Linked DNA regions of Homo sapiens: region 1 is linked to region 2. The links come from fine-mapping of genetic effects on gene expression. A gene starts in region 2. The other region holds a variant in brackets. All regions are shown on one strand. Distances are between the middles of the regions.

Evidence for each region. PIP is the estimated chance that this variant, and not a neighbour inherited with it, causes the effect.
Region 1: its variant is the best candidate, but not a certain one, in a credible set for the expression of SNX5 in B cells (Fairfax 2012, PIP 0.86).

Annotation. Positions count from the first base shown.
Region 1 is chr20:17,939,042-17,944,351 of GRCh38, reverse strand. It overlaps SNX5 (sorting nexin 5), which reads left to right. Exons shown (of 13, transcript NM_014426.4): 12 at 1,157-1,242; 13 at 1,945-2,752. The coding sequence ends at 1,995. Among named protein-coding and RNA genes, the nearest start is that of SNORD17, 21 kb to the left of the region's middle. RefSeq lists enhancers at 3,268-3,859, 3,835-3,924, 3,955-4,044, 5,285-5,310, 5,047-5,310. The variant C/T (reference allele first, on the strand shown) is at 2,757.
Region 2 is chr20:17,966,879-17,972,233 of GRCh38, reverse strand. It overlaps SNX5 (sorting nexin 5), which reads left to right and starts at 3,440. Exons shown (of 13, transcript NM_014426.4): 1 at 3,440-3,859. The coding sequence starts at 3,809. MGME1 (mitochondrial genome maintenance exonuclease 1) reads right to left here and starts at 3,216. Exons shown (of 5, transcript NM_052865.4): 1 at 3,093-3,216; 2 at 1,864-2,433. The coding sequence starts at 2,374. RefSeq lists enhancers at 2,222-2,351, 2,372-2,571, 1,511-2,710, 3,292-3,601, 3,218-3,972 and 3 more and a silencer at 3,602-3,811.

The DNA.
Region 1 (5,310 bases), 28 kb after region 2:
ATTAACATCTTTCATTTTTTTCAGTGGTAATACATTTGAAATTTGCTGTTTCAATATATATTATTGACTGTAGTCACCCTGTTGTGCAGTAGATCTCAAAATTTATTCCTTGAGTTTAGCTGCAGCCTTCTACCCATTCTCTTTCCCACCTTCCCCAGCACCCCACCCTCATCCTCTGATAACCATCATTCTGTTCTCTACTTCTAGGAGTTCAACTTAAGATTTTACCTGTAAGTGAGATCATGTAATGTTTGTCTTTCTGTGCCTGGTTTATTTTATTTGGCATAATGTCCTCTAAGATCCATCCACATTGTCCCATATGAGAGAATTTTGTTATTTTAAAAGGCCGGATAGTATAATGTATCTATACTACATTGTCTTCATCCACTGATGGATAATTCTCAATTGATTTTGTATTTTGGCTATTGTAAATAATGCTGCAGTGAACATGGAAGTACGGATATCCCATTGAGATACTGATTTCAGTTCCTTTTATATTCCCAGAAGTGGGTTTGCTGGATCATATGGTAATTCTATTTTTAGTTTTTTGAGGAACCTCTATACCATTTTCCATGGTGGCTGTACTAATTTACATTCCCAGCAACGGTGTAGAAGAGTTCACTTTTCTCTGCATTGTTGCTAACACTGATCTTTCATCTATTTGAGAAAATGCATTCTAGCAGGTGTGAGGTAATCTCATTGTGGTTTTAATTTGCATTTCCCTAATGGCTAGTGCTGCTGAACGTTGTTTGCATGAACCTGGTATGTCTTCTTTTGAGAAGCATTTTCACAAGCCATTGGTGAAGTATGTGGCTCACCACCACCCATACTCCAGCCCTGTTCCCAGTCACTGGTACCTAGAGGGTGAGAGTGAGGCTGCTCATCAACGTGTTCTCCAAGTCATAAGCTGCTGCTCTCCCACTCACGATGCTTGGTGATTCAGTGATGTTTTCCACTTAAAGACAGTGATAGCTGTATCACCACAGTTAATAGATGTCTGATGTGTCCCAGTCACAGAGATAATACAAATGTGAGGAAATAATGCTGGTGCCTGAAAGCATTGGAGACCATTTGTAAGAATGCCATTTGGTAGTTAAAGTGAACATGAAAATTGTTTAGTTTTTCTTGGTTTCATAAACATTTTTTCTTCCTGTAGAACTGATAAATTTCAAACGGAAGAGAGTGGCAGCATTTAGAAAGAATCTAATTGAAATGTCTGAACTGGAAATAAAACATGCCAGGGTAAGTGTTTTCTACAGATGAAGCCAACATCTTTTATGGTTTTTTCCAAGTTATTTCCCAGTTTACTAACCCATTGTCATCAGGCAGTTGGGGTGGCCTTGTGGTATTAATCGTCTGTAGTACTTAGTTGATGGGAGCCACTCATTGTTTATTTGTAGTCTTGTTTATAATGTCACCCATGACTAATTTTTAGCAACTTTTTTTTTTTTTTTTTAATAGAGATGGGGTTTCACCATTTTGGCCAGGCTGGACTTGAACCCCTGACCTCAGGTGATCCACCTGCCTTGGCCTCCCAAAGTGCTGGGATTACAGGTGTGAGCTAAAGCTCCCAGCCCTAATTTCTAGCAACTTTTATTCAATCTTTCCAAGGCCCTTGCCTTCATGGAACAACGCACTGATAGTGTCTTAAGAAGTTACAGTAAGCAGGATCACATTTAGGAGCAAGCAGGTGAGGGCAGAGGTGCTGGAGTGAACGTCGGCTCTTTGGCTGGTAGCCTTACCCACTGAGGGAGAGGAGCTGAAACATGAAATGGGGATGCGTGGTACGTTGCAGTTCACCTGGGATTTGATGAAGAGAAGGGCCAGCTTGCTCTGGCTGACTTTAAACCTCCCGTGAAAAGCCGTGTTGGTGTACTTGAGTCATTCCAGGTATATGGCAAGTTTTAATAATTCACTGGTCTGCCTTGCCTTTTTTCCCCACAGAACAATGTCTCCCTTTTGCAGAGCTGTATTGACTTGTTCAAGAATAACTGATATGCCTTCACTCAGAAGAAAAGAAATGAATGTGAAAGAAAGCCAAGCATCACTTGCACTTAAATCATTACCACGGAAGATATATTAGCTTCAACTTTAGTTTAAAATTATGTGAATAAATATTTTGATTTCTACAAATCTTAACATTTAACCATGTTGGTTTAAAAATATTATTGCTTGCTACTTGGACATAACTAATTTTTCCTTGTGCATTTAATACCTCTGGGCAGAATCCAAATACTGGGTTCTCCCGTAGTTCGTCTTTAGTTACTAAGAAAGGGTGTAGGACACATTAGCCTTCTGGAAACAAGTAGAAGCCATCACCTGGCCCATGTCCCTACAAACCCATGATTGTCAGGGAGGTGCCAGTTACAGCAGGTGATTCAGCTACTTGAGGTCGGTAACAGACCTTCCATTCCTCACTGAAGGTGGGGTTTGTGTTTTTGTTTTGCCCTGTTACTCCACTGGTAGTCATCTGGTGTTTGTACTATAACAACAGCAAGAAAATCTCATTTATCTTTATATACTCTTTGCACCTCCTTTTTTTAGTCGAGATATAAATATTTGAGGGGAGAGAAATATCTACAGGTATATATGGAAACAAATAATGTGGTCTGCTTTATAAGATGGCCAGATCTACATTAGGAAAAGTATAAGCCCCCTCCCTAATGGCCGCTGGGGGGTGAGGGCGGTGTGTTGTATGTCTTTGGGTGTTTGTTTTTTTATAAAGCATATAATAAAATAATCGTGCTACTAATGTA[C/T]GGCCTGTTTTCGTGGAAACTACAACCAGAGTGTGTCCCAGGAGTGCAGGTGGTGCTAGGGTTTGGCTGTGGTTACAGGGTTTTCAGGTTCTGCCCAGAGTCCTGGGGGCGGTCAGGGGAAATTTGTCCTAGTCTTGACATTCTTAAGTACTCCAGGCCTTTTTTAGATGGTCTCTAAATGTGGGTTTGTCTGTTTGCTCCTGACCTGATGGAGGTTTGCATTTTGGCCAGGGCCTTTACCATAGGGCAGTGGTCCCCAGTCTCAGGTCCATGGCTTGTTAGGAAGAGGTGAGCCAGCATTGCCGCCTGAGGTTCGCCTCCTGTCAGATTAGCAGCAGCATTAGATTCTCATAGGAGTGCAAACCCAGTATTGTGAACTGGGCATGCAACAGGTCTAGGTTGTGCGCTCCTTAGGAGAATCAAATGCCTGATGATCTGATGTGGAATGGTTTCATCTGGAAGCCATCCCTTTCCACACCCCACCTTGTCCATGGAAAAATTGTCTTCCACGAAACCACTCCCTGGTGCCAATGACATGTCTTCAGGAGTTGTGTGTCTATTCCTTTGTTGATGACTGAGCACTTAGGGTGGTAATCTCCTTTACCTTTCTAATAAGTAATTCATGGTAAGACCATGAGACTAAAAACATTTTACCCACCACATTTAGCATCTGTTACAGCCAACTGGTATGAGGGTTGCAGAACTGATTTCAATACATACAGGGAGCATGTTTCTTAACATTTATCTGGTCTTCGTGTCTTGCCTCCCCAGCTATTTACAGGCGGCCACAGTGCCTTCTACCTTCACAGTACATACTTGGGAAACGGTGCACAAAATGAGTGAATTTAAACTTGGCAGTTGTAACTTCAGTCTGGGCTCCTAACCAAATCTGTCCTTCCTACCCATCTCCCCCATAATGTCCACAGCAGCCACCCACACACGCCCAGCATTCTGTTAGTGTAGAGCCAGCACTCCTGCAGTCAGGTTCCTGGGCCGCAGTGCTTGAGCACCAGTGTGATCAGCCCTGATTGGTGGAGCTCTGGCTGTTGGCCTCGGGGCCTTGGTGCATTTTCTTGAGACTAAACCTTGTCAAATGGACAGCAGAGGCATGAATCTTGAGTGCTGGGTCTGCTGCTCACCAAGTGATCTAGGCTGCCTCTCTCAGCTGACTGATCTGTGAGCTGGAGTCAGCACTTCAGAGGCCCCTCAAATTAGTTTTATGCCAGCAATCTCTAATACAGCCTTCATGGATGGTATGATTGTAGATGTTTTACCTGCTGTATTTGTTCCAAGGCTTTTCATTAAATTGCACCTGACAGTCACTTAGGAAATTTGAGGCACTCTGGGTCAGGGATGTAGTCACCTTTCCCCTTCTGTCAGTCACCTAGTGAGTTGCTACCTTTACCTGTATGTGAGGGTGCATTCATAGTGGTCTGGGGTGGGGGGATGGGTTTAGATGCTGACTGCGACCTGTGTGGTGTGCTGAGACCTGGAAAGGCAGGCAGGCACTTGGCAGCAGGAGGAACAGCATCAGGTGGGAATCCACAGCTATCTTGCTGGAGTGCAGGAGAGCATAGGTCCCACATTGAGAAATGGGAATTTGGGTCACTTCAGGGTGATGTGTGGAGAGGCTTTTGCTGTGTGCTTGTATGGTTCTGAGAACTAGTGATCCTCCAGGAAAACCCATGTGGGTGCACAATTCATAGGGAACCCTTGAAGGTTTCTAGAAATGGGAATGGGAAGTGGTTTCAGATGGGCTGCCTTAAGGCATCCAGGCCAAAAAGGCTGTGACTTGCCCAAGGCACGGCTGAGAAAGTTGCCTCGTGGCACACGCAAAACTGCACAGTTCACATGTCATACGATTTCATTAAAAGCTAGGATCCAGCCTGAGAAACAGCGCAACCGTGTCTACAAAAAATGCTAACCTACAGTGGTGGCATACACCTGGAGGGCTGAGGTGGTGGGAGGACTGCTTGTGCCCAGGAGTTCAAGGCTGTAGTAAGTTAAAATCACACCACTGTACTCCAGACTAGACAACAGGGACAACTGCCATCCACCTCCCCTCTCCCCGCCCTCCCCCACTCTGAAAAGCAAAATTAGGAGATTGTCACGAGGAAGGAAAGCACACCCCTGGTCTGTGAAGCCGTTGAGGTCATGTCAGACCACTGGGGTCGTTTGTGGTGACAGAGCACAAGCATTTGGCCAGTTCACCACCCAACACATTCACTTGTGCCATCTCAGGGTTTAGGGGTCTGTTTTCTGAACATTTGCCTTGCGCACCTTTTCTTTGTGAGGTTTCTTTGTGGTAATTCCCAGGCTCAGCTCTGTGAAGGGCGATTTCCGTTTGGAAGGAAACCTTGCACCATCCGCTTTCTGCCTGTAGGCGGCAGGGGCGACCCAGCACAGCCACCTGCCCACCCACAGCTGAGCAGGAGCCTGGTATCCCCGCAGAGCTGCTCAGATTATCAGCTTATAGCTAAGGTAGCAGGAAGAGAAATGTCAGGCTACTTGAGAGTTAAGTAGTTCTGAATGGTGTTTTCCCAGACCAGCAGTC
Region 2 (5,355 bases):
TTAAAAAAATCTTCTTAATTTTTAAAATGTAATTCTTCTTGGGTGCCACCTTCTTGGGTTTGGGATCCAGTATCCTCCAGACCCGTTAATCAATTTAGTGAGCCCTTTTTCTTTTATTCACCATGACACTAATTGTCCCTTTATTTATTTCAGAACCCACTGCTTACTAATACTTATTTTCTAAAAAGAGTGATTCTGCCTGGGCACAGTGGGTCACACCTGTAGTCTCAGTATTCTGGGAGGCCGAGGTGGGAGCACCACTTGAAGACAGGAGTTGGAGACTAGCCTGGGCAACATAGGGAGACCCTTGTCGCTACAAAAAATAAAAAAATTAGCCAGGCATGGTGGTGCACGCCTGTGGTCCCAGCTACTCAGCAGGCTGAGATGGGAGAATCACTTGGGTCCCGGCGGTCAAGTCTGGGCGGGGTGCTGGGGTAAGCGATTCTGCTCATTTCTTAAGGTTGCTACTGAGTTAACTGAGAAACACAGCTGAGTGCTAATCTAGATCAACAAAGCTGACTCTATGAAAAAAAAAACAACCAGTCTTCTCTCTGCCTGGGCTATTGGGGCTCATTCACATTCCAAACAGAAATTCCTCTCTGGTGCACTTCCTTACTTTGTGCCAAGAGCTACAGGCCCTGGGGTCCCATGTGTTCCAGCAGGTTTCTGCCTTTTAATAATACATTTCTTATTAGTAATTTCAGCTGTACATTCCTGGTTTAAGGAAAATAACTTCTCATGAGAAAACTATCAATTCTAAATTTTAGTGGTACAAATACAAAACTGTAAGATGCCATTAGAAGATTTTTATGTTGCTTGCTTGGAAAGCAGACAATAGTTTGGTGGTTGCTACTAATTAACTATCTTAGGAAGGCAGTTAGCTCTTGCATATATAATCCTTGCCCCACACAGCTGAGGAATATTATAAGGAGCAAAGGCCTTGACCATTTGGTACATATCCAATACCACCTATATATACTTAGTATTTTTCTTTAGAACATGTGACATGTTTAATGTGTTACACGCATAGTTTTAGGAGTCTGGATTAGGGAAAAGACGACTTAAATAGAAGCCCAGGCTATGGCAAGGGTCAGTACACTATTCTTAAAACAAAAATGAAAGAGTTTGTGTACTACTAAGAGTACATGTACTGCACTTTGGGAAGCTTGGGTAAAGGAATGATTGATGTGAAACTTTCCTTTAACAAAAGACCCCTATATAATTTATGGGACTAGCTAATTCACCAGTGCCAATGGTCTTTGTTTTTGAATGGAATATTAAATTTAAGGAAGCTATTCTCCTCACTTGTCCAAGTTAGTAAATTAGAAGTTGAAGGTTAAAGTGTATTTATCCTCAGATCCTTATGAAGAACCTCTGATTATGTTTACCAAGGTCTAAATATAGGTCATGTGTTCTGGTCTGCTTCAAGGTCTTTAAATTTACGAGTCAGTTTACGCTAATAAGTAGGACAGTGGGTATTTACTGGATTCTAAACAGAATTATCTAGCAAACAACTAGAATTCTGTTACCAGGTGACTTTTTTCAATAATCAAGGAAAACAAGCAATTCTAATATTGTTGGTAGCTTATAAAACAAGTGAATTTTATGTATTATTTAGTCAAATATTTGATCTATTTTAGTTTCATCTGTAAAATGTGGATAACAGTATCTATACTCCACAGGACTACCATGAGGATCAAGTGAGTTAATACACATAAAGTGCTATTTAATGTTAATTACTATCTGAAGGGAGTTCCTTGCTAGTAAGTTAAAAAAACAAAACCAAACCTCATTCTTTTGACACCGTTGCTCTCTATTATAGAAAACATAGCAAACATATAGAATCAGAATTGAGATAATTACTTGAAGTGTATTCTTTAAAGCCATCTTCTCCCAGTTCCAGAATCATCCGCTGTTTCCACCTCTCCAACAAGAAAACCTGTTGTTTTGTCATGGTCTGCTGAAGGACTCGGGTCACACTTGGTATCACATTCCTTTGCAAGGGGATTTTCAAAGGAACTGAAGGATCACTTGCATTTGGTTTATCACTTCTCTCTGGATTGAAGATAGGAAACCAGTTTTGTGGCACTCGTCTGTCCTCACCTTGGTTTGGCAGCTTATGCTTGCTCACGGGTCCACAGAGCAAAGCATCTTCCTCCACCGATCCCGGGGTCTGGGCGACGCCTCTGGATGACAAGACAGACTGAACTAAATTAGAGTATTTTTCTTGGTCCACTTCTTCATATGGGTTCACTTTTTTCTTCCGGCCACATGAGTAAGAGGAAGTAGAGAAAGCCACAAGGGCAGCTGATTCCACAGAAAACTTTGAACTCCTGAGCTGCCTGCAAATGGTCTGAAATAACTTCATCTTCATTCAGATTTGTTTTCACTTTAGTCTATTTGCAACGGTCGAAGGCCTTTATGTTTGTATTCCTATTGGAGAGAAAACAACCATCAAAGCGAAAGCTGCATCAGAATGATATTGCACATCAAAATTGTGAACTTTTTCGACATGTTTGGACAGAGCCCTTTCTTAAGAAAGTCGACAGAGCGAGACCCTGCCTCCAAAAAAAATTTATAAATAAATCAAGACTCAATACCCGAAGGACCGACACATACTAAATGCGAATTAGTAGACAGCTTGAGGCAAGACGTCCCAGTTTCTAATCTGCAGGAATGTGACGCCCAGGAAGGGAGGCGTGTGCGAGACACGGAAAAACACAAAGATGGAGCCCGTCCCATGGCGGCCACACAGTCCTAGGTGACAGACGACGACTAATTCCTAGACACCAGGCTCTCTGCTAAGTATTCTGTGTGGATACTTCTCATTTGGTCCTCACACCCTCTACCGTGGGTCTAGAATGAACCCGTTGCACAGACGTGGAAATCGGGTTGGAGGGTCCCGTCGCTCGCCGGTCAGAGCTGGTGGCGGCGCTGAGGTCCCATTACTGTGACCGCAAAAAGTCGCCTCCCGCTCCGCCGTGGGTGCGGACCCCTGGCGGGGCCAGGACGGCGGTGGCCCCTGTGGCAGGAGTCTGGATTAGAGAAAAGACGACTTAAATAAAAGCCCAGCCTACGGCAAGTGTCGGTACCTTGGAAGCCACCACACTTCGCTTAACTCTCAAGGCGCGAACAACCTCTCGCGACCCGTACTTTCATCCGTCCCGCGCTTTGGTTTCGAATTAGGCACAGCCTAAGGCAAAGCAGGTCCAGAATGCCCCGCGGCGCTCACGCCCCACCCGAGGCTTTCGTCGGCCTCCGCCAACGCGCCACCAGTTAGAGGCAGGGAGTACCTCTCCGAGCGGAAGGGCCGGCGTCTCCGAAGCGCGGGAGCCTCCAAATCGCGCCCTTCTGCTCTCACGAGATCTGGTGACGTCAGCGCTCGCTGCCATCTTGGACTCGGGCTGAGTAATAAATTCCCCCCGCACCGAAACGCGGTCTTTCTCTAGACGCGTCTTGCTGGGAGAGTGTCCGTTGCTTCCCGTCCGTGTCGCGGCCCTGCGGTTGGCGGCCTCCTCGTGGAGCGGAGCAAGGGTAGGCCCCACGTGGCGTCTTTGCCCGGCTCCAAGATGGACGGCAGCGGGGACTGGGAGGCTGCTCTGGGGGAGCACGTGGCGCCCTGCTCGCCTGCTCCCGGGGCAGCTGGGATGGTGGCGGAGTCCGGAGGCCTCCTGCCGCCGTCGGGCAGGGAGGCCGGCGGAGGCGGGGCCGTGGCCGCCCCCGAGAGGCGCCCAGGCGGCGGCGGCGGCGGCCCAGCTTCTTCTTTCCTCGCACAGCCAGGCGGCCCCTGCTCGAGTCCCGCGTCGCCATGGCCGCGGTTCCCGAGTTGCTGCAGCAGCAGGAGGAGGACCGCAGCAAGGTGAGGTCCTCCCAGCCTCAGACTCCTGGGCGGGCGGCCCTGCGAGCTCCGGGGTCGCTGCATTCTTTCCCTTGCGCGTCCATAGGCCGTGGCTGCTCGCCGCCATCCCCAGCGCGGGAAGCACCCGTGAGACCCGGGCGGCCCCTCTCCCTGGTCTTCACTGAAGGCTGCCCCGGGGAATCCCTGTGGATGTCCCGGATTCTATTAGGACAGAACCAGAGACGCGGGACCTTAGCCCCAGCTCAGGCGCCGGTGCCGAGCGGACTTGGAGAGATGATCTCTGGAGACCCCGGAATGTTCTTTTTAAAACTTTCCTCGGCTTCGTGGTGACCAGTAGGTGAACGTGAAATTGACTTAACATGCGACAGACCAGTTTGGTTTGTTGCCCCCAAAATACCCTCCTTCCCCCCACCTTTTACTGAGAAGACTTTTTTGGGGGGGGGGCCCAAACAACTTGGGAAATTGCATCAAGCGTCCGAACATGCTGCTTACAACTTTAGAAACGCAAAATGCGTTGTTGTGGGAGTTGTGTAATTTTTAGTAGGTGCTCAAATACTTGCTGAACTTGGTGTCTATTTTTAAGTCTTGCCCATTGATGTAAACTGTCCCTAGGTCACGTGTATCTTGAGGTCTAAAAGATTATTTATGCAATAAATTGAAATTCCCATAGCCAATTAAAGATTCAGACGAGCCTCCACTCTTTTTCATTGGTTCTTTAAATTTGCCTCGGTAGCTTTGCGATGCATGGTTTGCGAGCAACCTTTCTTGCAGAATCGTCAACGTAAGTTTTTCTGACCGATGAAAAAGAACCTCTAAAAATACAAGGCTCTCTTAAAATGTAATTTGGAGCCGTCTTAACTTACACATTTCTTGAGAAGTTAAAGGCACCTCCATAGAGAAACTTGTTCATCTAGTAAGTAAATACCAGAGTTTCAAAGCGGCTGGATTGTTCCAACAAGGGTATCATTGCATTAATTATTAAAATAGAGCTTTCTATACAGGAGGGTGTTGTTTAGAGTGGTTTTTTTTTTGAAAGTTCTTTATTACTAAAACAAAGTGGAAACTTGAGACCACGATTCTTTGTAAAACATTATAAAGGTACTTTTCTCCATAAAGGGTAGATAATGGATTGGGATTTTGGTAGCATTTTATTTTTTCTTTCTTTCTGGTACATTCTTTTAGCTGTCTTGATTCGGAGTCAGCTAGGTAAAAGGACTCAATTGCTTCACCCCACTCTCTGGTAGTACAGTATATTGCAGCTGGTTTTTAAAATGACTTCCACCACCCTGATCCTCCAGCAAAATTGGAGAATGGTTATGAAGGCCATTTCCTGCCTGTTTTAGAGGCTACAGAAACTGTCCGTATCTGTAGCGAAGAGAGTTACATGACATTGTTTTCCTTTTTACATTACAGGAATAAAGAGACAATAAAAATAAATAATTACCCTGACGCGTGGCTTTATTTTTGTTTTCTGATCTCTGCTGATGCTGATAACC